4 linked regions of the Homo sapiens genome follow. The protein of the gene in region 4 purifies or fractionates together with the protein of the main gene of each other region. This does not show direct contact. Each region holds a gene or a part of one and is shown on either strand. Other genes may lie near its edges.

What was found.
Region 1: the proteins of SLCO1B1 (region 4) and WAPL purify together in Homo sapiens (affinity purification with mass spectrometry; 2 studies listed by BioGRID and IntAct, with this or other methods). This does not show direct contact.
Region 2: the proteins of SLCO1B1 (region 4) and SYNGR2 purify together in Homo sapiens (affinity purification with mass spectrometry; 2 studies listed by BioGRID and IntAct, with this or other methods). This does not show direct contact.
Region 3: the proteins of SLCO1B1 (region 4) and USO1 purify together in Homo sapiens (affinity purification with mass spectrometry; 3 studies listed by BioGRID and IntAct, with this or other methods). This does not show direct contact.

What each region holds. Positions count from the first base shown.
Region 1 is NC_000010.11:86,497,781-86,504,804, forward strand, and holds part of WAPL (wings apart-like protein homolog), read right to left. Parts: intron 2,964-7,024; coding exon 1,938-2,963; intron 1-1,937. UniProt on the Homo sapiens protein: Regulator of sister chromatid cohesion in mitosis which negatively regulates cohesin association with chromatin. Involved in both sister chromatid cohesion during interphase and sister-chromatid resolution during early stages of mitosis.
Region 2 is NC_000017.11:78,163,617-78,171,580, forward strand, and holds the start of SYNGR2 (synaptogyrin-2), read left to right. Parts: upstream 1-4,964; 5' UTR 4,965-5,000; coding exon 5,001-5,099; intron 5,100-7,200; coding exon 7,201-7,438; intron 7,439-7,893; coding exon 7,894-7,964. Other genes in the region: C17orf99 (protein IL-40), read left to right, coding at 479-1,050. UniProt on the Homo sapiens protein: May play a role in regulated exocytosis. In neuronal cells, modulates the localization of synaptophysin/SYP into synaptic-like microvesicles and may therefore play a role in the formation and/or the maturation of this vesicles.
Region 3 is NC_000004.12:75,727,566-75,734,589, reverse strand, and holds part of USO1 (general vesicular transport factor p115), read right to left. Parts: intron 1-7,024. UniProt on the Homo sapiens protein: General vesicular transport factor required for intercisternal transport in the Golgi stack; it is required for transcytotic fusion and/or subsequent binding of the vesicles to the target membrane.
Region 4 is NC_000012.12:21,197,186-21,204,209, reverse strand, and holds part of SLCO1B1 (solute carrier organic anion transporter family member 1B1), read right to left. Parts: coding exon 7,022-7,024; intron 3,703-7,021; coding exon 3,538-3,702; intron 1,720-3,537; coding exon 1,524-1,719; intron 1-1,523. UniProt on the Homo sapiens protein: Mediates the Na(+)-independent uptake of organic anions.

The sequences.
Region 1 (7,024 bases), on a different chromosome or scaffold from region 4:
CCACATTTAAAACACCAGAAAAGGAGGACAGTTATCCTTGGCAAGAGATTTAAAATGACCTAATATAACAAAGTTTAATGATTTGTCGGTCTTCAAACACAACTAACCAAAGAGTCAGTTTATTTCCCAACTGGTTAAAAATATGTATCTTTTTCTAAGCGAAACAAAATAGGAAACATAGAAAGACTCTTCTCTATCCCAATGCTTAAAATTTTTTGCTGTTTCACTTATGGTATGAAGACTCAAATTTCAACTTTGGGTAGATCAACCAAATGGCCTCTAATTTTCAAATGTTATTTAGCATCTACTTCAAGTTTCTCAAAGGGAGTCTAATTTCACATTTTACATCTTTAAAAGTTGTATTACACAAGATGTAAATTTCAGCCACAGATTCTCAATTGCAGGGGATAACTTGCTATCCAGGTTAGAATAAAAGCTTATAAGTAAACTACAGCAGGACAAGGGCGCTGGTATTGTATAGCAGTATTTATCATTCTACTGAGGAAACAAATGCCTAGCTGTTCTGCCTAGCCAGATCTTAAGTGACTATAGTAAGGCTGCTGCAAATTTCCAGTCTCCAGAAAAGATTCAAAGACAACACTGGATGTATTTCTTTTTTCTTTTTTTTCGGGGGAGGCAGGGGTGAGCCCCTAGGGGTACTCCTGTGTATGTCTAGTTTTGAAGAATAAATTAAGCAAAACTATTTTCAGGCCAAATAAAGCAAAATGGTAGGTAATCTCAAGAATGACTTATATTCTACAAGAGAATTTGTATTTCAAAATACTACTGTAATTCTAATTTACCATAATGACACTTCTGTGGCCCTACCAGGAAAAAAGCTTTATTTAATATGTAAACCAATCCAGAAAAACTATATTTGGTTAAGAAACCATGTATCCTAGAAGCTTTCACAAATTCTTCCTCACTAGATAGTCAATCCACTTCACAAAGCCCTTGTCAGGTAATGACTTAATTATGGCAGAGCTAACCTATTTCTTTTGTTTGTCTCTCACAGTGGAGACTGAACTCCTTGAGGACCCTTAGTCACTACTGAGTCTACAATCTCGGCACAAATTAAATTTCCACAGTTAAGAGGGAATGCATACTTACCTGGCACTTTTCAATTTTATTAAACCAACTTAGGAGGGTTTGAGAGTGTTTTGAATGTTTATTAGTTTTTAGCCAACCACAAAGAGTTTTTAAATTCTAATCTTCTGGTATTTCCCTCATTATAACCACCTGTTATCAGTACAGTTCCAAAGGCCCAAAATCTAATCTATGTTTTCACTGCATTTGCATTTGTCAAGTGGAAACATCACGATGTTTGGTGTCCCTGCCCCATACACATATATGCTTTAAAATTCTCAAGTGCTAAAGGTTAAATTAAAACTCAAATATGAAGACTCTCCAATCTACAAATTGGTTCCTTACAACTTGGGACCTGATCATTAACACTTGAAATGCTGTACCTTTAGATAAGGTGATTTACGGTTCTAACAGGTACTTTTAATAAATATAACAAGCTAAACTTGAGTATCTAGGAAGAAACTATGCAGCTGTTGATTCAAGCCTGAAAAACACATTTAAAGTAGCCCCCCCAGCCATCAACAGGGAATACATGCCAGTTCCTAGTGGATGCCTGAAACCAGGAATAGTACACCAAAACCTGTATATACTATGTTTTTTCGTATACATACCTATGATAAAGTTTAATTTATAAATCAAGCACAGTAAGAGATTAGCAATGACTAAGAATAGAACAATGATTTTAACAATACGCTATAATAAATGTTATGTGAATGGGATCTTTATCTTATTATACTGTACTCACCTCTTTTCAGAATATGGTTGACCTTGGGTAATTGAAACCACAGAAAGTGAAACTGCAGGTAAGGGGGAACTATTGTACTTATTATACATATTTTTTAAATTCTTACCTGCATTGTTAGTACCAGACTGACTGTCCTGGGAATTATCATTGCTTTCTGGGGGAGGCTGCAAGGAGGGTGATGGAGCTGTTTTAGTTCTTTTTTTGCTTGTCTTTCTTTCTACTTGACAGTCATCATCTTCATCATCTTCGCTTTCACTGAGATCATCAAAGCCAAAATACTTAATTTTGTAATTAGAACTTCCAGAACCTCCTTCATCACCTCCTGTCTCATGATCTTCAAAACCAAAAAATTCAAGTTTAACATCCTTTTTGGATTTAGTATTACTAGGTCGAAATCTAGTAGTAGTCTTAGAAGTTGCAATATCTGCCTTTTTTCTGAGACGACCAGCTTCTCCCAAATCTGCAGGAGTGGATGCAGTGAACTCATCCATGCTGCGTTCCATAGTATCCTGTATGGTAACATTACAAACTGACAAGCAAGATGGATGTAAAACAGTGTAATCTCTAGTCCGTCCAACTGTCCCTCTAAAACTGGTCCCACAACTTACACCCCCTTTCTTTGCCTGATTCAGGCCATCTTTACTCGATTCACTGTTTGCTTTGGCTAAGGCCTGACTGGTGCCGTCCATCAGCTTATCAAAATTTGATGCTCCTTGGGAGGATTTCGTTTTATTGGCCCTACAGTACGTCCTACAGTTGGTTGGCCTAAGAACACTTTGTACAATATCTTCCTCAATGGCTTCATTCAGATTTTCCAATCGATTTTTAAAATCGTCATCCTTCATCTCCAAAAGGGGATCACTATCCAAACTTAAAATACAGTCTTCTGATCTGATATCTTCAAAATCATTATCCCATTCAAACAAACCAGTTCTAACAGATCCCTTGATTGGAGATATTTCTGATGGTGATTCTGGCCTTTTCCCAAACTGGGAGTTCCAAGTATCATTTGTTTCCTTGATTTCAGAAGCCACTGTAGTTTCTGCATTGGGTTTCTTAGTACTGTCATCAGCATTTTTGTGAATATGGTGACTATTCTTTTCATGTTCTTCATGAAAATTCTCCACTTTATCTGTAAAAATAAGTCAAAGGATAAAAACATGAGTGGTATCAACATAAAAGTTAATAAATAACATATATGTGGTTAATCAATAGTATATGATCAATCTTGGAAGAACTGCAAATAATTTTAAGTTGTGAAGAAATTAACATTTACATATCAGACATTTCCTCTCCTATCTTTTCAGTGTATAGCTCTCATGCCTTCTACTGACCTTTCCTCAGGCAACCAAGTCCCTTAAAATTGTAAACTCACAAGAAATTTCAGCAGGGTTAAGCAACTGAATCCATTCAGAATGACATGTAAATGACTCAGCCAAACCTTCTTAGGGGTATTATGGGCTTTTCAAATAAAGATGCTTAAATTAAAAATCATTTAGTAAAACCTAAACCAACTGAACAGTTAATAAAAACCTTCTACCAGTGTTTTTATTTATCTGGGATAGGGCTGCCCATAAGGTATGCTAGTTCTATCCAGAAACCTGTCCATAGGATCAGGTTTCTCTAGCTATTTCTGTTCTTTCTTCTAATCCTAAATGCCATATAATCTCAAGGGAATTTTTAGCAGTAGTTCTGGTGTGTTAGTTAAATGGCTAATAGTGGCTATTTATGCATATCAGCCAGTAATAAATCCTCAGCCTGCCTATTCATCTGGTATGTGGAGAATTCATTTTTGTTGCCTTCAATTTTTACTATCAGAACATTTTTACAACCTTTCCAAATGAGATACAAATATGATTCCAACTGGTATTATTAATTCCCTCAACATTTACTTGTAGAAAAACACTGACAAAATGTATACCCTATGCCAAACAATAAAATTACTTCTACAAAATACATCTACATTTAAGAAAAGCTATTTACAAATCTCAATTAGCATCATCAAATACAGGTGAGAGGGATGCTTTACATGGACAGATTCACTGCATAATTTTTAATTCTACCCAATAGGTTTTCCTGCCCTCAAGACAGGATCTCACTGTCACCCACACTGGAATACAGTGGTGTGATCACAGCTCACTGCAGCTTCAGAGACCTCCAGGCCTCAAGTGATCCTCCCACCTCAGCCTCCTGAGCAGCACTCCCAAACAGCTGGAACTACAGGTGTGCACCACCACACCTGCCTAACTCCCCTTTTTATTTAACAGACAGGGTCACACTACGGTGCCTAGGCTGGTCTTGAACTCCTGGGCTCAAGCAAACGTCCTGCCTCTGCCTCCCAAAGTGCTACAATCACAGGCATGAGCCACCACGTCCAGCCTCCAAAGGGTTTTAATGTAATTTAACAGGTTAAGATTTGGTAATATCTTTTAAAACTAAAAATGTACATGTGAAAGAAAGGACTTACTCTTGAAGCCAGCAGTTTCATTTACAAGTATTTAGAAATAACTTTCCACGAACACAAAATTACATAAGTAACAAGAAACTCAATAGAACACTGTTTCCTGGTTTTTGCTTTCATAAACAATATACCAATTAATAAAGAATTAAATTACCATATAGCAACACACCTGAATACTATGCAGTTGTTAAAAAGAATGAGGCAGCTCTACATTATGTACAGATATGGATGCTCTTAGAGATGGAATGACTAAGGGATAAGGAACAAGAAAAGACTTTCATACTTCTTGAATTTTATACTGCATGTAAGTTGTCTATTCAAAAGCCAAAACATAAAAAATGCCAAAATTGTATATTTTTGGAGTCCTTATCTGTTAAAAAAATATATTTATGAATCAAATACAACATCTTGAATTTACTTTAGTGAGGATAAAAATGAAACAAGACTGGCAATGAATTGTTTGTTGAAGATTAAACAGTTGAACTGTTTAATGGAGATGGAGATACAAATAGACATTATTTTTGTAGACATAAACACACAAATGTATACATCTGTGTAACTGTATACTAGTCTATACACACAAATATATACAGACTTCCTTTACCCTCTTATAAGAAAATGAAGATACTTCCTTTGATTTCTTACCAAACCCATCATTACACAGATGAGAAAAAAAGGCCCAGAGGGGCTAATGACTGCAGAGGTTCTCAATTAAATCAATAGTCAAAAGAGACTTCATAAAAAAGACCCATACCAAACTATATTACACTACGTCTAGTGGTGGCTGCTAAACACTAAAATGCTAGGCCAGGCGTGGTGGCTCATGCCTGTAATCCCAGCAGTTTGGGAGGCCAAGGCGGGCGGATCATGAGGTCAGGAGTTCGAGGCCAGCCTGGCCAACATGGTGAAACCCTGTCTCTACTAAAAACACAAAAATTAGCCAGGCGTGGTGGCGGGCGCCTGTAGTCCCAGCTACTCAGGAGGCTGAGGCAGGAGAACTGCTTGAACCCGGGAGGCAGAGGTTGCAGTGAGCCAAGATCATGTCACTGTACTCCAACCTGGGCAAAAGAGCGAGACTCTGTTTAAAAGAACAACAACAACAAAACTAATTCACTGGCTGGGCGCGGGGGCTCACACCTGTAATCCCAGCACTTTGGGAGGCTGAGGTGGAAATAGCAAATGTTTATCTCACGGTGTGCTGAGGACTAAACTTAAACAATGCCTTTAACCTGTAAGAAATCTGTGCAAATGATACAAAGTGGCTTGGAGACCATAACCCATGAAATACAGTTGAGGCAACTAGAAAGGTTTAATTGGTGCAGGGATGGAAGAAAACTGCCATTACATGAAACCTGCCTTTAAATATCTGAATGGCTGTCATGATAAGAAAACAAACTTCGCCGGGTGTGGTGGCTCATGCCTGTAATCCCAGCACTTTGGGAGGCCGAAGCGGGTGGGTCATCAGGTCAGGAGATTGAGACCATCCTGGCTAACACAGTGAAACTCCGTCTCTACTAAAAATACAAAAAAATGAGCCAGGCGTGGTGGCGGGCATCTGTAGTTCCAGCTACCCGGGAGGCTGAGGCAGGAGAATGGCGTGAACCCGGAAGGCGGAGCTTGCAGTGAGCCAAGATCACACCACTGCACCACGGCCTGGGTGACAGAGCAAGACTCCATCTCAAAAAAAAAAAAGAATACACACATGAAAAATGCTTATCATTAGTTGCTAGGGAAACACAAAAGGTAAATTCCTTAATATACCAAGAATCCTTACACATCAGTAAGTCCAATGTCCCAGTAGAAAATGGCGCTAGGGGCCAGGCACAATGGCTCAGGCCTATAATGCCGGCTCTTTGGGAGGCCGAGTCAGGCAGATCACTTGAGGCCAGAAGTTCGAGACCAGTGTGGCCAACATGGTGAAACCCTGTCTCCACTAAAAAGACAAAAAAAACCCAGCCAGGCGTGGTGGCACATGCCAGTCGTCCTCGCTACTTGGGAGGCTGAGGCACAAGAATTGTTTGAACCCAGGAGGCAGAGGTTGTAGTGAGCTGAGATAGCACCACTGCACTCCAGCCTGGGCAACAGAGCAAGACTCTGCCTCAAAAATAAATGAATAAATAATAAGCCAAGAACACAAAGAAGCAATTCATTAAAATATATATCTATAATGAATTAAATAACTTATGAAGGATACTCAATTTCACTCACAATTAAAACTCAAAGTAAAACAAAGCTGAACTATATTTATATAAGCCCTCGGTATGTGCCTGGTAGTATTCTAAATACTTTCTATTAATTTATTTTATCTCAAAGCAACCATCAGGCCAGGTGCGGTGGCTCACGCCTGTAATCCCAGCACTTTGGGAGGCAGAGGTGGGCAGATCACGAGGTCAGGAGATCGAGACCAGACTAGCTAACACGGTGACACCCCATCTCTACTAAAAAATACAAAAAATTAGCCGGGCGTAGTAGCACACACCTGTAGTCCAAGCTACTTGGGAGGCTGAGGCAGAAGAATCGCTTGAACCTGGGAGGCAGAGGTGGCAGTGAGCCCCGTCGACAGAGCGAGACTCAGTCTCAAAAAAAAAAAGAAAAAGGAATAACAGGGACATAGCAGTACGTGCTTATAGTCCCACCTAGAGCTACCCAGGGCACTGTGGCCAGCGGTTCATTTGAGGCTGCTGTTATGATCACACCTGTGTGAGTAGCCACGCACTCCAGCCTGAGCAACA
Region 2 (7,964 bases), on a different chromosome or scaffold from region 4:
AGCACTTTGGGAGGCTGAGGCAGAAGATTGCTTGAGCCCAGGAGTTTGAGACCAGCCTGGCCAACATGGTGAAACCCCATCTCTGCAAAAAATACAAAAATTAGCTGGATGTGGTGGTGCACACCTGTAGTCCTAGCTACTCGGGAGGCTGAGATGGGAGAATTGCTCGAGCTGGGGAGGCGGAGGTTGCAGTGAGCCTAGATCGCGCCATTGCACTCCAGCCTGGGCGACAGAGCAAGACCCTGTCTCAAAATAAAGTAAGAATAAGATAAAAACCAAATGTGAAATTGTGTGGTACACACGGCAGGTAGGGCAGCAGCCCAGACACAAGGTGGAGGGCAAACTCTAGAAGGCGGCCTGGAGGAGGCGGCAGCCACAGCTAAGCTCATTAGGCATTTTGTAATGAGGAGAACTTACTGAGGAGGAGGGGTTTAAAACCGCTCAGCCATGCCTGTGCTACCTTCTCCCACCCTGCCAGAGCCAGTGTCTGAGCTGCGGGCCAACTTCACTCTGCAGGACAGAGGGGCAGGCCCCAGGGTGGAGATGATCTGCCAGGCGTCCTCGGGCAGCCCACCTATCACCAACAGCCTGATCGGGAAGGATGGGCAGGTCCACCTGCAGCAGAGACCATGCCACAGGCAGCCTGCCAACTTCTCCTTCCTGCCGAGCCAGACATCGGACTGGTTCTGGTGCCAGGCTGCAAACAACGCCAATGTCCAGCACAGCGCCCTCACAGTGGTGCCCCCAGGTGAGAGGGCCCTTGGATTTCCAGAGGGGCAGCTGGCGCTTCTGTGCCGGGAGGGTGCTAGTGTCCAAGACACAGGTCGATGGGAAGTGGGACAGCTCTACCCGGCCACTGCTGAGAGCAGAGAGGGCACAGGAGGCAACCATGCCCACCCTGGCCCCTGCCTAAAGGAAGCCCAACCCAGCTGCCTCCGCCCCCTCCCAGGAGGGTTGCCCAGGGCACCCACCATCGTGCTGGTTGGCAGCCTTGCCTCCACTGCGGCCATCACCTCCAGGATGCTGGGCTGGACCACGTGGGCCAGGTAGGAAATGGGTGCTCGATGCAGGGAGGAGGGAGAGCTGCTGATGGCCTGAGAGGTCCAACCGGGCCCTGGCTGCAGAGCTCAGGTGGTGGGGCTTGCAGGGCAGGGCTGTGGCCAGGGCAAAGAGCGGCCATCACCGCTTACGCATGACTCGAAGGTGTTTATGAGGACCTACTGTGTGCCATGTGCCTACTGAGGCTTACACATTCAAGGCGTTATCGGACCCTGACCAGTGCTCCCAGGTGCCCTGTAACACAGTCTGCTGGCCTCTGGGAGGGCAGTCTCCTAAGTTCTTTATGGGGTCTGAGCAGGGATTGCAGGGATGATGCCTCCAGGAGACCAAGGTGGACCAGGAGCTCCTGCCTTCTGTGAGAACCACCTTGGGCAGTCTTTCCGAGGTGGTGGCAAGAGCCTGGGGCCCAGCCTCCCAGGGTCCCCTCTCCAAGGCCATGGCTTTACTAACATGTAAAGTGACCAAGGCCTTTGTAGTGTCTGAGTGCAGGCACCACAGGCCTGTGTGCTCTGCCTGTCTGGCTTTGGTGGTGGCCAGCCCTGCCTCTGTGAACTCATCTCTCTTTGTTTGGGAGACACTGCCGTGTCCTGGTTCTCATCCTCTGCCCGTGGCCCAGGCCCTTACGTGGCTCTACCAGGAGTCTGTCCTTGGCACTTTCCCATCTCACTTCTACCAAGTCTGTTCTTTCCAGAAGCCAGACTCGTGGGTGAGCCATGTCACCTCGCCGAGCCTCAGTTTTTCCTTCTGTAAAATGGGGTACAGCCTTCATTTAGTGGGGTGAGTAAGCCTCATGTCTCTTCTGCTGGGGCACTGATGTGCTTGGCACCATAAAACTCCCAGAGGCAGGCCGGGCACAGTGGCTCATGCCTGGAATCTCAGCACTTTGGGAGGCTGAGGCAGGCGAATCACCTGAGGTCAGGAGTTCGAGACCAGCCTGGCCAACATGAAGAAACCCCGTCTCTACTAAAAATACAAAATTAGCCGGGCGTGGTGGTGCGCACCTGTAGTCCCAGCTACTCGGGAGACTGAGGCAGGAGAATCACTTGAACCCAGGAGGTGGAGGTTGCAGTGAGCCGAGATCGTGCCATTGCACTCCAGCCTGGACAAAAAGAGCAAAACTCCGTCTCAAAACAAACGAACACTCTCAGACGCCTCGGGAGGGGATGGCTGGGAGGTGAGCCTGCCTGACTTGAGTCTCCACTGCTTTGTCAAGGTGGTGACCAGAAGATGGAGGACTGGCAGGGTCCCCTGGAGAGCCCCATCCTTGCCTTGCCGCTCTACAGGAGCACCCGCCGTCTGAGTGAAGAGGAGTTTGGGGGGTTCAGGATAGGGAATGGGGAGGTCAGAGGACGCAAAGCAGCAGCCATGTAGAATGAACCGTCCAGAGAGCCAAGCACGGCAGAGGACTGCAGGCCATCAGCGTGCACTGTTCGTATTTGGAGTTCATGCAAAATGAGTGTGTTTTAGCTGCTCTTGCCACAAAAAAAAAAAAAAAAAAAAAAGGGTAACTATGAGAGATGGTGGATATGTTAACTTGCTTCGCTATAGGAACCTTTGTGCTATCTATATTATCTATATGAATCCCATCATATCAGGTTGTCTACCTTAAATATACACAAAAACATTTATTTAAAAAAAAGAAAAAAGCCTGCCAGCTGGGATTCTTGGAGTGCTGGTGGCCTTCAGCAAACACAGACACTGTTGGTGTGAGGGCTTCAGGAGGGTCACAGAAATAAGGGGGTCTGTGTGGCCCTGTCCTCGCCTCTCAGGTGCTGTCACATCTCTCTGGGTGTAGGGAGAGGGAGGGGGGCACACTGCGAAAAGGCCCAGCCCCTCCCCCCCACCTGCTCCCCTCTTCCCTGGAGAGGCACCCCACCTCCTGGTGGCCCAGTCCTATGGTTCAACTCTCACGTGGTCCAGCTCACCTGGGTTGACTGTGAGCCCCACCTGGCACACCTGCTGTTGTTAATCTGCACCTGCAACTAGCAAAGGGGGGTCTGGAATTCTTCCGGGTTCAGTCAGCCTGTGATCCCACACCTCTGTCTGTACAACCTCCGCTCCCCACTCCAACACACACAGAGCCTGCCCCAGCCTACCCTGCACCAGACCCTCTGTACCGGTTTTTCTTGGGATGGAGGTAGAGAGGGACGGAGGCGAGAGGGGGCTGAACTGGAACTGGATTAAACTTTGCCATCTGCCTGTCGCCCTGAAAACTTCATTTCTGTTTGCATGCCATATATATATTTTTTTATATGTGGTCTTTTCTTTTTTTTTTTTTTTGAGATGGAGTCTCGCTCTGTCGCAATGGTGCAATCTCGGCTCACTGCAACCTCCGCCTCCCGGGTTCAAGCGATTCTCCTGCCTCAGCCTGCCAAGTAGCTGGGACTACAGGCACGCGCCACCATGCCCAGCTAATTTTTGTATTTTTAGTGGAGACGGGGTTTCACCATGTTGGCCAGGGTGTTCTCGATCTCCTGACCTCGTGATCCGCCTGCTTCAGCCTCCCAAAGTGCTGGAATTACAGGCGTGAGCCACCACGCCCGGCCGATATGTGGTCTTACTCTGTCACCCAGGCTGGGGTGCAAAGGCGTGATCTTGGTTCACTGCAAACTCCGCCTCCTGGGCTCAGACAATTCTCCCACCTCAGCCTCTGGAATAGCTGGGACTGCTAGTAGCTGCCACCACGCCTCGCTAACTTTCGTTTTTGGTTTTGTTTGTTTGTTTGTTTGTTTGTTTGTTTTGTTTGTTTTGAGATGGACTCTTGCTCTGTTGCCCAGGCTGGGGTGTAGTGGCTCGATCTCAGCACACGGCCACCTCTGCCTACCGGTTTCAAGCAATTATCCTGCCTCAGCCTCCCAAGTAGCTGGGATTACAGGCGCTTACCACAACGCCCAGCTAATTTTTTTGTTGTTGTTGTATTTTTAGTAGAGACGGGGTTTCACCATGTTGGCCAGGCTGGTCTCAAACTCCTGACCTCAGGTGATCCAACCGCCTCGGCCTCCCAAAGTGCTGGGATTACAGGTGTGAGCCACTGCGCCCGGCCTTGCACACCATCTTTTTTTTTTTTTTTTTTTTTTTTTTTGACACAGAGTTTTGCTCTTGTTGCCCAGGCTGGAGTGCAATGGCACAATCTCGGCTCACCGCAACCTCCACCTCCCAGGTTCAAGCGATTCTCCTGCCTCAGCCTCCCGAGTAGCTGGGATTACAGGCATGCACCACCACACCAGGCTAATTTTTGTATTTTTAGTAGAGACGGGGTTTCTCCATGTTGGTCAGGCTGGTCTCGAACTCCTGACCTCAGGTGATCCAACCGCCTCGGCCTCCCAAAGTGCTGGGATTACAGGTGTGAGCCACCGCTCCCGGCCTTGCACACCATCTTAAGTGTGACGCCACACTGCCCTTCACAGCCTTGGGGCTCTGCCCAGACCAGGAGGAATGGGGAGGGGGTCTTTGACCCTACCCCAGGCTTAGCCCCAGAGAGGAGGAAAGAGTGGCAGGCCAGGCAGGGAGGGGCTCCAGGGTGTGGCCTGGGTTTTTCAGTGGGATGGGGGAGGGGTTGCTTATGAGCCTGGGTGGGTTCTTGGTAGGTGGTGGGCTTCCTAGAGGAGGCGGTGGGAGGGCAGGGGCAAAGAGGGTGAGCGGTCCTCAGTTCGTCCGTCTTCCCGGGGGACTCTCTGACCCTTTCTGGTCCGTGCTGCGGCCGGCGTGGCCCGGAGACTAGCCCCTCAACCCCGAGGTGGGGTGGACCCGGGTGCTCCGCGGCCACAGCCCCTCCCCGCCTCTAGAAGCGCAGTCCCGCGGCTCGCCCGCCGCTCGCGAGGGCCGCACTTTGCCCTCGGTCCCTAGCGGCGCCTGGCCACGCCCCCGGCGGGTGGAGTCGGGCGGGGCGCCGGGCAGGTTCCTCTGCGTTCCGCGGCGGCGGCAGCGGCGGCGACGGCGACATGGAGAGCGGGGCCTACGGCGCGGCCAAGGCGGGCGGCTCCTTCGACCTGCGGCGCTTCCTGACGCAGCCGCAGGTGGTGGCGCGCGCCGTGTGCTTGGTGAGCCCGGGGAGGGCGGGCCGAGGGCACCCTGGGGACCCCCTCTCCGTCGCCAGGCCCGGCGGGGCCCCTAGCCCACGAGCGCGACAGGTGGCGGCGGCCGCGTCCGGGGCCTGGCGGCGAGCGGGGCCGGCGTCCAGCGTCCCGGGCCCCGCCTTCCCGCCCTCCACAGTCTGTCCCGCTGTCCCCTCCCGGTCCCGGGTCCCGCCACCCACCCCACCCCCAGCCTCGCGCCCCGACGCGGGGTGTCCGGATCTCCGCAGGGAGCGGGCCCCTGCCTCGCTGGCAGTGGGAGGAGTTTGGGGGCGGCTCCCGGACAGGTGGCCCGCACGCCGCGACTCCCAGATTGGGGAGTTCACCGGGACGGGGTTTTCCGAAGCCACGTGGGGTAAGGGAGGGGGCGGGGGGCGACCCAACGCCCGGAAACAGGGTGTCCTTCCCACTCGGGGCAGGCCACGGGTCCGCCTTCCCACCCGAAGTTGAGGGACCCCAAGATGTACCCCCTCCCTGTAAGGTGGGCAATACCTCCAAAACCAGGTTTTGTGTGTGTGTGTGTGTGGCGGGGAGGGGGCCTGTTCTTGGACAGCCAGCCCTGAAAGCTGGAGGGGGTGGCATGAGGGGGCAGGCAGAGGTGGGCCTGCTGTGCCCAGACCATGCCTGGGCCTGGAGCTTCTGAGGTCCTCCAGGGCGCCCACACCAGCTCCCAGCCAGGCTGTGGGATCTGATCGCCTCTGTCCTGGGCTGTGTCCAAGAATCAGGTGCCCAGTGGGTCGGGATGGCAGTGCCAGGAGTCCTGGATGGGCACCCTGCTCCCATCATCCCGGAGATCCGGCTTCATCTCCATCTGGGGGCGGGGCCTGTGACTGCCAGCTCCAGAGCCCTATGGAGAGCTCCCTGGGACAACAGGGCAGGACTGGCAGGGGAGAGTCCTGGGGCCATCCCAGAGGGATCCTGATGCTCACAGACCTGTCCCACACCTGCTGAGGTGGAGCAGGCGTGGGTGGTGGCCTTCAAGTTTAGGGAGGTGGTATGGGGCTCTTCCCAAGGGGCTGGAGCTCCCCTACATCCACCCTGGGTCCTCCAGGTGTCTGAGTTCAGAGCTGTATCCACAGGCCTGAGTTAGTCCCCTTGTAGTGCCCTGTGCATGCAGGGCCCTCTGTGGGGTGGGAGACAGACTGGGAGGGACCAGGATGCCACAGAGGCTGCAAGTCCTTGTGTGGAGACAGCTGGCCAGGCTGAACCAGGGAGGGTTCCAGGGGTTCCAGGAGGTGAAGACACAGGGGCGCCAGCATGGCCTTCCCAAGAGGGCCTGTCCACCTTCACCAAGGTGTTCAGGCAGAGGCTGGGTGCTGTAGAAGTGACTTGGGCTGAAGGTGACGGGGGATGGGTAGTCTTTGTGACTTGGCCTGTCTTGGTTAAACCTCTTTCAAGGTGAGGTTGGGCTGGGGATGGAAGGACTGCCCTTCATCCATCAGGTACCTAAGCAGAATGATTCCTGCAGCAGGCCGATGGGGCAGGAGCAGCCCCTGCCTAGGAGGTCCCTGCCCATTCCCCACCCCTCCCCGGTCCAGGATTCCCAGGGGCAGGCCCCCTGGTGCCTGCAGATTCTCATCCTGGGGTGCATCAGGAAGCACTTTGCTCATCAGCTCACCTCCACAAGTTTGGAGGGGCTAAGATGTCAGCCTCCAAAAGGGGACAGCAGGCTGGGCGAGGTGGCTCATGCCTGTAATCCCAGCACTTTGGGAGGCCGAGGAGGGTGGATCACCTGAGGTCAGGAGTTCCAGACCAGCCTGGCCAACATGGTGAAACCCTATCTCTACTAAAAATACGGGTGTGGTGGAGGGCACCTGTAATCCCAGCTACTAGGGAGGCTGAGGCAGAATTGCTTGAACCCAGGAGGCAGAGGATGCAGTGAGCCGAGATCGCACTATTGCACTCCAGCCTGGGCAACAAGAGCAAGACTCCATCTCAAACAACAACAAAAACCCAAAAGGGGACAGCAGTAGTGGGAGAGGCCAGCATCTGTACACCCCATCAGGGTCCCCGCTGTGTGTGCCCCTCAGGCGGCCACCAGCCCTACCAGGTCCTCCCCTCCCGGCAGGTCTTCGCCTTGATCGTGTTCTCCTGCATCTATGGTGAGGGCTACAGCAATGCCCACGAGTCTAAGCAGATGTACTGCGTGTTCAACCGCAACGAGGATGCCTGCCGCTATGGCAGTGCCATCGGGGTGCTGGCCTTCCTGGCCTCGGCCTTCTTCTTGGTGGTCGACGCGTATTTCCCCCAGATCAGCAACGCCACTGACCGCAAGTACCTGGTCATTGGTGACCTGCTCTTCTCAGGTATCTGCCTGTGGCACCTCCATTTGATCTTGGGGGAGGCATTAACTCTAGGGTTCCGCAGCTGGGAGGGTCTCGGCCTCTCTGGGAGGGGCAGGGAGCAGCTCACTCCTCCAGGGCATTTTTAGGAAAGGGTTTTCAGCTAGTGTTTTTCCGTGCTTGAATGGCACCAGCCCTGCCTGGGGTAGCTAGAAGCTGAGTGGACCTGCAGCACACCCGAGCAGATGGGCTTTGCCTCTGCCCCTTTTGTCCCCTAGGCTGTCTGCTGTGGCCCACCCTGCCAAGGCCCGAGTGTGGGGGACTTTGGAGGTGGCTCCCGGCCCGGCTTCCAAGTCCTCCCCTCCATAGTGTGGAGGCTCCCCCGGGAGGTCCCTGCCCTACCTGCCCGCGTCCCCTCCCAGAGTCCTGGAAAGCCCCTCCCTTTCCATGGAACTGACGCTTCACCCGTCCTCCCCCAGCTCTCTGGACCTTCCTGTGGTTTGTTGGTTTCTGCTTCCTCACCAACCAGTGGGCAGTCACCAACCCGAAG
Region 3 (7,024 bases), on a different chromosome or scaffold from region 4:
AATCCTAAGCAAAAAGAACAAAGCTGGAAAAATCACACTACCCCACTTCAAACTATACTACAAAGCTACACTAACCAAAACAGCCTATTACAGACATGGAGCAATGGAACAGGATAGAGAACCCAAAACTAAAGCCACACACCTACAACCATCTGATCTTTGACAAAATTGACAGTAACAAGCAATGGAGAAAGGACTACCTATCCAATAAATGGTGCTGGGATAACTGGATAGCCTTATGCAGAAGAATGAAACTGGGCCCTTACCTTTTACCATATACAAAAATTAACTCAAGATGGATTAAAGACATAAATATAAGACCTAAAACTATAAAAAGCCGAGAAGAGGCTGGGCATGGTGGCTTACGCCTGTAATCCCAGCACTTTGGGAGGTCAAGGTGGGAGGATCACGAGGTCAGGAGATCGAGACCATCCTGGCCAACATGGTGAAACCCTGTCTCTACTAAAAATACAAAAATTATCTGGGTGTGGTGGTGTGCATCTGTAGTCCCAGCTACTTGGGAGGCTGAAGCAGGAGAATCGCTTGAATCCGGGAGGCAGAGGTTGCAGTGAGCCAATCGCACCATTGCACTCACTCCAGCCTGGGTGACAGGGCCAGACTCCTACTCAAAAAAAAAAAAAAAAAAAAAAAAAATCCTCGAAGAAAATCTAGGAGATATCATCCTGGACATTGGCCTTGGCAAAGAATTTATGACTAAGTGCCCAAAAGCAATTGTGACAAAAACAAAAATTGACAAGTGGGACCTAATTATACTAAAGAGCTTCTGCACAGCAAAAGAAACTATCAACAGAGTAAACAAACAACTTATAACCTGGGAGAAAACATCTGCAAACCATGCATCTGACAAAGGTCTAATATTCAGAATCTGTAAGGAACTTAATTCAACAGGCAAAAACCAAAAACTCTTAAAAAATGGGCAAAGGACATGAACAGACACTTCTCCAAACAATACATATACATAGGCAAGAAATATATGGAAAAATGTTCCACACCACTAAATCATCTGACAAATGCAAGTCAAAACCACAGTGAAATACCATCTCCCACCAGTCAGAATGACTATTATTAAAAAGACAAAACAAACAAACAAAAAACAGATGTTAGAGAGGTTATAGAGAAAAGGGAATGCTATATACTGTTGGTGGGAATGTAATTTTAGTTCAGTCACTGTAGAGAGCAGTTGGGATATCTCTCAAAGAACTTAAAACAGAACTACCATTCGACCCAGCAGTCTCACTACTGTATTTTTTCAACAAATATTTGTCATGCAGCTAATACAGACTTAATTTATTTTTTTTAATTTTTTTTTTGAGACAGAGTCTCACTGTGTTGCCCAGGCTGGACTGCAGTGGCGTGATCTCGGCTCACTGCAACCTCTGCCTCCTGGGTTCAAGCTATTCTCCTGCCTCAGCCTCCCAAGTAGCTGGGACTACAGGTGCCCGCCACCACGCCCGGCTAATTTTTGTATTTGTAGTAGAGACGGGGTTTCACCATATTGGCCAGGCTGGTCTCGAACTCCTGACCTTGTAATCTGCCCGCCTCGGCCTCCCAAAGTGCTAAGATTATAGGCATGAGCCACCGCACCCGGCCCTACAGACGTGATTTTATGATATAACCTTACCTTCATGAAGCTTAAAACATTCCTAAAACAGAACTCCCCCAACTATGACTTTTTTTTTTTTTTTTTTTTTTAGATGGAATCTCGCTCTGTCGCCAGGCTGGAGTGCAGTGGCGCGATCTTGGCTCACTGCAACCTCCAACTCCCTGGTTCAAGTGATTCTCCTGCCTCAGCTTCCCAAGTAGCTGGGATTACAGGCACAGGTGCCACCATGCCCAGCTAATTTTTGTATTTTTAGTAGAGACGGGGTTTCACCATGTTGGCCAGGATGGTCTTGATCTCCTCACCTCGTGATCTGCCCGCCTCAGCCTCCCAAAGTGCTGGGATTACAGGCTTGAGCCACTGCGTCCAGTAACTATGACTATTTATTGTAAGACTAAAATAATCCATGCTAATAGTCATTTCAATTATAATGTTTTTAATGAAATAAGGGAAAATAAAGAAAAATAAATCATTCTATCAAAAAGCCATATGCACTTGCATATTCACTGGAGCACTATTCACAACTGCAAAGATGTGGAGTCAACCTAGGTGTCCATCAATAGTGGACTGGATAAAGAAAATGCAGTACATATATGCCATGGAATACTATGTCGACATGAAAAAGAATAAAATCATGCCCTTTGCAGCAACATAGATGCAGCTGGTAGCCATTATCCTAAGCGAATTAATATAGGAACAGAAAACCAAATACTGCATTTCCTCACTTACAAGTGGGAGCTAAACAATGAGTAAGCACGGACCTAAAGATGGGAGCAGTCAACACTGGGGACAACAACGGGGGGAAGGTGGGAGAGGGGGCGAGAGTTAAGAAACTACCCATCAGGTACCATCCTCACTACCTGGGTGATGGTTATACATCAAACCTTAGCAACAGGCAATTTACCCATGTAACAACTTGCACATGTAACCTTCTAAAACTTTAAAGTTATGGGGAAAAAATATTGTTTAGAGAAATGTTTATTTTCATAAACACATTTGCTTATGAAACAATACTAATTTACGTTTAATCGTTTATAAAAATATAAAAGCAAAAAAATTAAAGGACACTAGTGTAATACAGCTTGCAGTATTTTTTCACAATTCTTTTTTTTAAGTATTCAGTAACTACTTAACTGACAGGAAAAAATAAAGAACAGGAATGGCAATTAAAATGCTAACTCTAATCAATCAATCATTTATCCAACAAATATTTGTCAAGCACCTAATATTGATTTAATTTTATGATATAATCTTACCTTGAAATTTAAAACATAGTTGTACCTTCCTAAAACAGAATTTCCCTAACTGTAAGACAAATAATTCATGCTAATAGTCAATTCACTTATGTTTTAGATGAAATAAAAATATTATTGTTTTAGATTACAAAAGTCATTTTTTTTTTTTTTTGAGACGGAGTCTCACTCCATTGCCCAGGCTAGAGTGCAGTGGTGCGATCTTGGCTCATTGTAACCTCCACCTCGTGGGTTCAAGTGATTCTCCTGCCTCAGCCTCCCTAGTAGCTGGGATTACAGGCACCTGCCACCATGTCCAGCTAATTTTTGTATTTTTAGCAGAGACAGGGTTTCGTCATGTTGGCCAGGCTGGTCTCAAACTCCTGACCTCAGGTGATCCACCCGCCTCAGCCTACCAAAGTGCTGGGATTACAGGCGTGAGCCACCAGGCCTGGCCCAGAAATTTGTTTTAAATTTAACTCTGTTACTGAGAAGACTTTATTAAAACAGCAAAAGCAAATCTTATCTTCATATGACCTAAATTATTATAATCTATAAAAAGAGATGTGGGAACATTAAAAAATCAAACACAAGTCTCTTTGTAGACAAATCCAATGAATCCATTTCCATTATAGTTACCTTAAGTCAGCCAAGTAATATACTGCTTCATTTATTCTCCATGCTCTTTCCCATAAATGAACTATGCTTTTCAAAAGGACATCGTTTTAAGCAAGGGGTCATAATGAAACATGTCTACCAAATAACCTATCACAAATGCTAGCATCTCAAAATCTAACACCACAAAAGTTTTTCTGTAATCCCAGCACTTTGGGAAGCTGACAGGAGGATTGTTTGAGGCCAGGAGTTCAAGACCAGCCTGGGCAACATATTGTGAGCCTGTCTCTTTAAAAAAAAAAAAAAGTTTTCAAATTAATGGTGAATAACTTTTGACACAAAAAATGTTTATGGCACTTCTGCTTGAGGTATAAAAATAATAAGCATAACTTTACTATACCTACAACAGACAAAAAGCAGAGTACAAAGCAGTAATATTAATAATAAAAGGTAAATACATAAAAAGAAAGAGGAACAGTATTTGGTATCAACAAATGTATATAAGGAATTCTAATATTCTTTCCTAATCAGATTCAAGAGTAATGTTTTTAATGAAATAAAGGAAAATAAAGAAAAAGGCATCAGAATTATATATCCTCTTGGACAATTTTTCCCTAAGTATGCTTCTCAAAATAATAGATAACAAAGTTCCCTAGAGGAAAAAAAAAGGTCTGGTCAGATAAATTTGGCAAACAGCTTACTTTTTATCTACATTTTAAAAATATCTGAAACTATAACACAGTGCCTGCTTACAAAACCTTGCATAAATACTAGAGGTTTTTTCTTTGTTAGTGGTCGTTGCACACACTTCTTTGCTGACAAAATTTTTTTCATGGACATCTATTCAAATTTTTTGAAGCATACCTTGGTAATGCTACGGCATGTATAATTTAAATGATTCTAACTTTTAAATGAACCCTATATAATCTACAAAATTAACCTTCCAAAAAGCCATGTAGTATTCAATAGGCCCTACTTAAAAAGAGTGCTTCGATATAGAAATGACCAAAACACAAATCATTATTACAGTTCTCTCCGACATTGTTATTGCAAAACAGGCCAAGAGAGAAAACACATTCCAGTTATGACATTGACCTGGTTATTAATGTAGAATACATCAACCCAAATAGGAATTTCAGACTACACATTTATAGTAACATGGTATAAAATGTGCTTGACTAAACGAAAACTATGTCTAAATTTAAGTCCACACTCTTTAATAACAATTTTTATTAAAAGAAAATATGGCTGTGTTTATATTGTTAGCCCTTCTGCTTTCTGAGACAGCTGATGAAAGTTTGATCTGGAAAGAGACCCCATAACAATGTTCTAATTCTGTATGCTTTTTCTGGACATTAGCAACTTTCATGTCTCGGGGTCCAACTTGAGAACAGAAAATGCCTCTATGATTCATCATCAAATGTAGTTAACACTTGCTTGGAATTTTCAAGAAACTAGCTTTAAAAAAGGTACAAGTTGGGGGCTGGGCGCAGTGGCTCACGCCTATAATCCTAGCACTTTGAGAGGCCGAGGCGGGCAGACTGCCTGAGCTCAGGAGTTCAAGACCAGCCTGGGCATCACAGTGCAACCCTGTCTCTACTAAAATACAAAAAAATTAGCCTGGCGTGGTGGCGTGCACCTGTAGTCCCAGCTGCTCGGGAGACTGAGCCAGGAGAACTGCTTGAACCCAGGAGGCGGAGGCTGCAGTGAGCCGAGATTACGTCACTGCACTCCAGCCTGGGCGACAGAGCGAGACTTCGTACCCCACCCCCCTACCCAAAAAAAAGGTGCTAGATAGAAGGCAGATATAACACTAAGCACACATAAGCTTACATTCAAAAGCATGAAGTCCCTGGTGGTCTAGTGGTTAGGGAAAAAGAGAAAACTAAAAAACAAAAGCATGAGTAGGATTTGTACTATAATAATATGCACCCAGCAAACTGTGTCAAGGCTAAAGAGGCTTCAATCACCAGAAATCAGTGTCAAGTAAAAAAGAGAAATGAAATGTAAAAGTACCCGACTCTGGGGCCAGGTGCCGTGGCTCACACCTGTAATTCCAGCACTTTGGGAGGCCAAGGCAGGCGGATCACGAAGTCAGGAGATCGAGACCATCCTGGTTAACACGGTGAAACCCCATCTCCACTAAAAATACAAAAATTAGCCGGTGTGGTGGCAGACACCTGTAGTCCCAGCTACTTGGGAGGCTGAGGCAGAAGAATGGCGTGAACCCGGGAGGGGGAGCTTGCAGTGAGCCAAGATTGCGCCACTGCACTCCAGCCTGGGCCACAGAGCGAGACTCTGTCTCAAAACAAAACAAAACAAAAACAAAAACAAAAGTACATGACTCTAAAACAGAAAAAGTTTAATGTGGATGAAATTCTGAATTTAAAATATCCAGTACTTTATAGAATTGACTATCCTATGATAAAATATTTACTACTTGACAGGTTCTCAAGAACATCTTTCTTTTTGAGACAGTCTCGCTCTCTCGCCCAGGCTGGAATGCAGTGGCACAATCTTAACCACTCAGTGGTTGCTCACTGCCAACCACCGCCTCGATTCTCCTGCCTCAGCCTCCTGAGTAGCTGAGATTATAGGCATGTGCCACCATGCCCAGCTAATTTTTGTATTTTTAGTAGAGACAGGGTTTCACCATAAAAATGTGCTTGACTCCAGAAAGGAGTTTGGCCAGGCTGGTCTCAAACTCCTGACCTCAAGTGCTCCATCTGCCTTGGCCTCCCAAAGTGCTGGGATTATAGGCGTGAGCCCCCGGCCTGAAGAACATCTTAATATCAGTCCAAAGTTACTCTTAACTAAGAGTATGAAAAGCTAGATACTATACAATCAATCACATAACTCTCACACATTTAAAAGATACTTAAATTCAATAAGAAAAAAAAAAACAAGAAAGCAGTCAAAGCATTTAGTAAATATGAAAAAATCCCTTAAGTAAAAAGCTTGACACAATGAACTTCATTTGAGAACTTCAGTTTCTAGTCTTTAAAAAGTGTTTTAGTACCTAGTAACGTAAGTTGCTATAATTACAGATCTGTGATTTCTTTCAAATAAAACTATAATTAATTCATTTCACAAGTATTTACTGGGCATCTACTACTGTGGAAAAACAAAGATTAAAATACATTATGAACCCTGCCCTAAAGACACTTTAAGAGTCTAGAAGGAATAAGATATATGCACACTGTAGTTAAAATGTAAAGGTAGCTCAGAAAGGAAAAAGCATCTGAAACGTGCTGGGGGAAAGTACAGATTAGGGGAGGCGCTGATGATGAATTTAAATAACAGGTCTAATTCAGACAAAGAAAAGAGCCCTTCCATTGGAAAAAAGATGTTAGAAAAAGCAAGAAAGATGGAAAGCCACCATGAAAAAAATTTAATTTTGCAGAAATGGAAAAAACTACAAAATAATAAATGATAATATAGAAGCTAGGGGTTCCAAGCTCTGGTAACTCAAATATCCTGGCCAGACTAAATCATCAATTAAAACATCTAAAATTGTATATACACTCCACTGATGCTCTATAAATACTTCTAAATT
Region 4 (7,024 bases):
GTCTCAGGGATCCTTAGAGATATTCAGAACACATTCCGAGACCTCTGCAATAATTCATACTTAAAAAAAAACTTATCCCAGTCGCAGGATTTTATGAATGTTGAATCCATTAATTATATTATTTATCATTAGATTATGAGTCCCATGAGGGAACTGATGTATCCTACAAATATCCTTAATATTTACCTTTAAGGAAAGGCTTAATAAAATTTTATTAAATGAAACAAATTCTGTTTAACTCTGCTGCCATCTTTTGTATACTTTGTACAGTGACTAACCTTGTTGTCAAGAAACTGGCCTGTCCTTACAACCAAGAAGGCTTTTGAACTAAGGGTGTGACATAGGATCAGTCTAGAGTCTAAAGACATTGTGTGACTTCAACATGTTACATTTTTTCTGACTCTTCAATAATAAAGGAAAGTATAATACAAGGGTTGGATTGCATCATCTCTAAGGTTCTTTTACCTCTAAAATTCAGTATTCTAGGACAATGTATTTTAATTTACTACAGTAGTTGATGGTGGATAGGAGATACCAATAACAGTTCAGAATTAGCAGTGTGCAGGGAAACAATTTCAGATAACCTTGGCAAGCCTCCAAGAATAGCACAATGTTTATAGAAGAAAATGTGGGAATATTTGACAAGTTAAAACCAACACCTCATGGGATCCAGACTTTGAAAGCTCAGCACCAGTAGTAAGCAGCACTAAAGAACATGGTTACTGAATTGTGATCTGAGCATCTCTGCTTGTTGCTTGAATGTGAACCTTCCTAAGCTTAAATTGTTGGCTATATTCAGGAAATTATCAGAAAACTGCATAGGATTCTTGCCCTTGATTTGAGGTGGAGACTGTTGCACTAAAAATACTTTGCTATACATGGTAATCATGGAAAAGTAAAGATTCTTCAATGTCTAATATGCAATTATATATAGAATATTTCTTAATGCTACTTCCAATGTAGATAATATCAGAAAAAAACAATATTAGCTTGCAAAAAAGAAAATTCAGTACAACATTAAAAGTGTTCTTTTGTTAAGATAGTTGTTGAACATCGATATGAACTGTAGATAAAAGTTGTTTAGTCACTTTTGGCTAATGCCATTTATGTAACTCTTATGATCCATCCAAGATTACAGTGGTGGTTAAGACTAAGAGTTTTGGACTTAAAAAACTCAAATTTGAGTTAGAATCTTAATAATGCTAGCTGTGTAATCCATGTATTTCTCTAAGCCTTACTTTTCCCATTCATAAAATAATGATAAAAGTACCCACTACTAATTGTAAGTACCACATAAATAATAGTTATTATTATTACAACCTATGTTGCTTCTCTTTAGTGGAGGAATAAAAGAATGTGTTTGAGGTCTTAAGAAACAGATATTTTAAAAATTTTAAAATTGAAATTTCTCTTAACTTAAAGAAAGTTTAGTTAAAATTGTTTTCTGCCTTATATTACTTATACAGAGACTCTTAATTTGATGGTTAACATATTATGCAATTGATATAGTGATATATACAAACCCATCATAGGTCATGGTTAGTCCGGCAACTGATTTGTTTTCACAGAGTATGAAAAAATATAATAGGTAAAAGGACAATGACATCACAGCAGTAAAACATGAGAATTTGGCAATTCCAACGGTGTTCAGTTTGAATTTTTTAATGATATATCCTCCTAAAAACATTCCACTTGCAAAAATAGGTATGGTTATGACTCCTAGAAAAAAAAGAAAAAAAGTTGTAATCATATATGAGTTTTCTGATATGTCTTTATAGATGAAACACAATGTATGTCAATCAAATTTATTCAATATTATTGCTTCTTTTTAAAATTTTACTTTAAGTTCTGGGATACATGTGCAGAATGTGCATGTTTGTTACATACATATACATGTGCCATGGTGGTTTGCTGCACCTATCAAACTGTCATCTAGGTTTTAACCCCTGAATGCATTAGGTATTTGTCCTAATGTTCTTCCTCCCCTTGCTTCCCACCCCTCAACAGTCCCCGGTGTGTGATGTTCCCCTCCCTGTGTCCATGTGTTCTCATTGTTCAACTCCCACTTATGAGTGGGAACATGCAGTGTTTGGTTTTCTGTTCCTGTGTTAGTTTGCTGAGAATGATGGTTTCCAGCTTCATCCATGTCCCTGCAAAGGACATAAACTCATTCTTTTTTATGGCTGCATAGTATTCCATGGTACACATGTGCCACATTTTCTTTATCCAGTCTATGATTGGTGGTCATTTGGGTTGGTTCCAAGTCTTTGCTATTGCAAATAGTGCTGCAATAAACATATGTGTGCATGTATCTTTATAGTAGAATGCCAATCTTATTACTTTTTAAAAAGAAGAATGATATAGCAGTATGGTGGTAGGGGATCTGTGTAATTTGTTCCTGCCAATGATGACAGTTTGGTTTCCTCAATAGCAAAAGGCAGTGTGGCTGAGGATATTTGTTGGAGCAGATAATTTCTATGAGGCAATTTTGTTTTTCTGGAAATAAACAACAACAAAACACCATCTTTCTGCCTATGGAACTTCATCTAAAGCCTTTTGCCTCTCTCAGATAGAGTTCTAACCCTCAGTAACTCACACTAAATCTGCCCAGAGCTTAACAACATAAAAATTAATATATCTTTGTCATTTATTAAAAAACATACAGAACCTGAACTGACAAATCGCTCTACATACAGGATTAATAATGTTTAATCCCTCCTATAACTTTTCCATATCTTTGTCTAATAAGAGTTAACAAAGATGAAGTCTTCTCTAGGAAAAAGCTCAGGCTAGGTTACTGGGAGTCAAAACATTATTTTTCGATTTTAAACTTTTATCTTAAGATCAACAAAGAGATTATCTGGAAGCTTGGTCTCCTGCTTCAGTACATTCATTTTCTTGTTTACTTATGACCTAGTTACATACCACATGATAAGTTGTTTAATTCATCATATATTTATATTGAATTTCTATAATGTGTCTACAATACTAGAGTTGTGGGAAGAATAATACAAGGAAACTTTCCTTAATAAGCACATCTAAATGTGCCATTGAAAATAGATATTGTAGCAAAAAATACTCTGTAAAATATATTTGTTTTGAATTATGCATATTTTGATGTATTTAAATCGATACTCTTTTTGGAACTATTAGTGTCATATTTTTGTAAGTAACTGAGTCTTGATTTCAAAGTCCATAAATTATAGAATTATAATGATTATAATTACAAAAGGGTTTGTCTCAGATCTTAGCACTAAATTATAAGATCCAATTATACAGATACTACCTCTAAATTGTCCATTTATTTGCAACATTTTTTTCAGGAACTCATCTAAAATAAGATGCAACTTCAAATGCAGAGCAATAGTGACATCACAAGTTTTATATGTTTAATAACATTTGAGAAAGAATACAAGAAAATTATACTTATCCTGTATTACTAAAATACAAAATCACTTTCACAATAAAATACCACTTGGAATACAGTATTTAGTATTATTTCACTTATTAAGCACACAAGTAAAAAATATGTCTTACCCAATAAGATGTTAGCCTTAGATGAAGGCTGACCATACTGTTGCTCTACGTATTTGAAGACATAAGTAAAAGCACCAATATAGCTGCTTACTTGTAACAACGTCAAAAGCACAAACATAACATACAGGGGATTAGTAAGGATGCTTTTAAAAGACTGGAAAAAACCTGTAAAATTGTAAAAATAAAGAAAATATTTGAATGCAACTTAAATATACATTTATATCTAAAATTTGTGAACGTAAGTCATGTAAGATTTAAAATTCTATAAACACATAACACAAAGAGTGAGAATAGCCTGCAATACCACAGGCTGTTCACAGCTTTTAAATATATTCTTTCAATATTTTCCATACGAATATTAATATTTATTAGTTTAGTTTATTTTACCCTCAAATAGGGTCATACGTAAGTGCTGTTTTGTAACTTGCTTTCTTCACTTAATATTTGGTTATCCTGGGTACTTTACAATACTATTGCAAACATATTAATTCACTTATTCATTCATTCAGCAAATGTTAGGTTTTCAACTGGGTACCAGACAATATGCTAATTGTTCAAAAAACAAAAGTGAAGGCCGGGCACAGTGGCTCACTCCTGTAATCCTAGCACTTTGGGAGGCCGAGGCAGATGGATCACCTGGGGTCAGGAATTCGAGACCAGCCTGGCCAACATGGTGAAACCCCAACTCTACTAAAAATACAAACATTGGCCAGCACGATGGCACACACCTGTAATCTTAGCTACTTGGGAGGCTGAGGCAGGAGAATTGCTTGAATTAGGGAGGCGAAGGTTGCAGTGAGCTGAGATGGTGACACTGCACTCCAGCCTAGGCAATAGAGCAACAAGACTCCATCTCAAACAAACAAACAAACAAACAAACAAAAAAACCCAAAAACAAACAAACAAAAAGTGAATAAGACATATGATGTTTCTTATTTATTAGTACTTAATGATATAAGTATTATATTAAAAATATAACTATTAAATGGAAATGTAAAGACAGCATAATTCAAAACTCACAGAAATAAGACCATTGAGGTTCAAAATTCTTAAAGATTAATTTAGTATGAGGACTCAGACCTCCTGTTTCTCTAGTATACAGCTCTTCTACCATAACATACTTTCTCAGTAAATTTGGCAATATTATTAACCCTCTGTCTTAAGATACAAGGAAAGCAGCCAGGGGATAATATTGTGTCCCAAGTAGTATTATAATAGTAATAATACAACCACCTATCCCTACAAACAGCTGTGGTAACAAACTTCTAACTTCTGTTCATGGTAGAAATTATGTCATTTGGATCTGTGATCACCAGGTCAACTAGCTGTAATAGGACTTAAAAGTAGAAGGAACTACTTAGAAAAACAGTAGGAAGTATCAGAGTTCATCAAGACAGAGCCAAGATATGGTTACTGAGAGTTGGATGATACGGACTTTGAAATATTTTTCTCTATTTAAATCTCTAAAGATTTTCATTAGATATGGTCAGAACTAAGACATCCATTTAATGTCAGCTACGAAACAGTTGCATCTGCTTGAAATAAGGAGTAGAAGGAGTTAGAGAAAAGAAACAGAAAAGAAAAAAAGAAGAGATAAGAAAATGTATAGTGGGAATAAACAACATTTAAAATTCTTGGGCAAAAGTGCCACATTTCTCTCCACAGGTCTCCCCAGTCATGAAAAACCATCCCTGATTTGTAAGTATTATAAGTGAGTTGTGGCCTTTCTTCAACAGAAATGGAGTATATACATTCACACAAGCGTTGCATTTTTGAGGATGAGAAATTCAATGTCATCCAGTGTAAACTTCTGTATAGTCATGATCTACTATATATCATTAATAAGTGGATCAATAAACAACTTAAGTGGCATTAAACTAAGTACCTTAGGAAGCAATTTCCTCCACTTTTGAAAAGTTCTCATTGTTTACACACTGTTTTTGTAATGAACTGAAATCATCTTTTCATTCTAATCAGTTTTAGTTCTATTCAAGAGCATATGGAATAAATTCAATATTTTTTCTGACTATATATTCTTATTTTATCCATTCCTAATAGATACATACTTAAGATCCTCTTTCTTAGGGTCACACCTACAAAAACTGTTCATAATAGAGATTATGTCTACAATTGTCCTATTTTTACAACTTCATTATCCTCTCTGTTCTGTTTGGATCACAGTCAACCCCGCTCCTTATAGGTTTAGACAATCTACTATTTTTTAAAGATTTGATTTGGTACAGTAGAAACATCATATACAAAATGAAAATTATTGGTATAGTACTTTTAGTGTGAATGTTAAATTTTAAAAACATAAATGTTTAACATCTGATTCTTAGGAAAACAAACTTCTACTTGTAGTATATCCCAATTTCCATGGTAATAAATCATGGTAATTCTCTTGCCATGAACAATTTCAACCTACCAATGTAGCTGAAACTTAACAGTCCTCTGCTATGAGCCAATATAAAGAGTACCAGAACACCACTGCTCTTGGGTTAGTGTGATAGAAAGGAGAAAATAGCAATAAAGTAATAAGTAAAAGACCTGATGAAAGGAAGAACCTAGGCTACACTGGAGAATTTGTCATCTTACTTTAAAGAAAACTTGAAAAAGATGCTGAGGGTTTAAGTGTTGCATTGCTTTGGCTATTTCACCATTTCTCCCAAATCTGAAAACTGCTGTCAACACCTCACTGATTCACATATCTTGCTCTGGCTACTGCCAAGTCATTCTCTTTGTTTATTGACTCTCAATGGTTCTCCATTAGTCCCAGGGTTTATATTCAAAAGAGGAGGCACTGTCAAATGCTGATGCATCCTAATTTACATTACTTAGTCTAATTATCTTAACTACCACCTTTGCTTCCACTTTATTTTGAATATTTAGATAAGATAGATAGATAGATAATTACCAAAATAAATATTACTCTAATTACATAGGGAGAAACTTCTCCCGACTTCCTTCTCCTTAATCCATCTCTACACCTGATAATAGTTAAGTTTAATTTCACCATAATACTTAAGGCACTATATTGCTATTGTCTATATATTTCTCAGCATCACCCACTAGGTTCTTGAAAAATAGAGGTAATGTTTTATTACCAGGGCATAGTACAGTTCCTGGTACTACTTGTTGAATAAATGAAGGAATGAAATATTATAATTCTTTGAACTCTCCCAGTTTAGACCATATAATACTAAAATTAATATTTACTATTTGGCTCATAAAAAATGGATGTTTGTAAACTTTTGTTGGTTTCTCCCTGCTAAAAAGTACAAACCTAATTCTCTTCCACTTGTTATGTGCTCAAGACATATATGTTAACTTTAATAGGAGTTTTAGAAAAATAATTTATCTAAATTTAGTGCAAAAGAAAGCCAACTCCAGATGAGTTGGGTATGCTTTATTATTTTGGAATACTCATTCTTCCTTTTCATTGAGATTAACAACTCCAAATTGACAATGAATGTTAAATACTTACCAG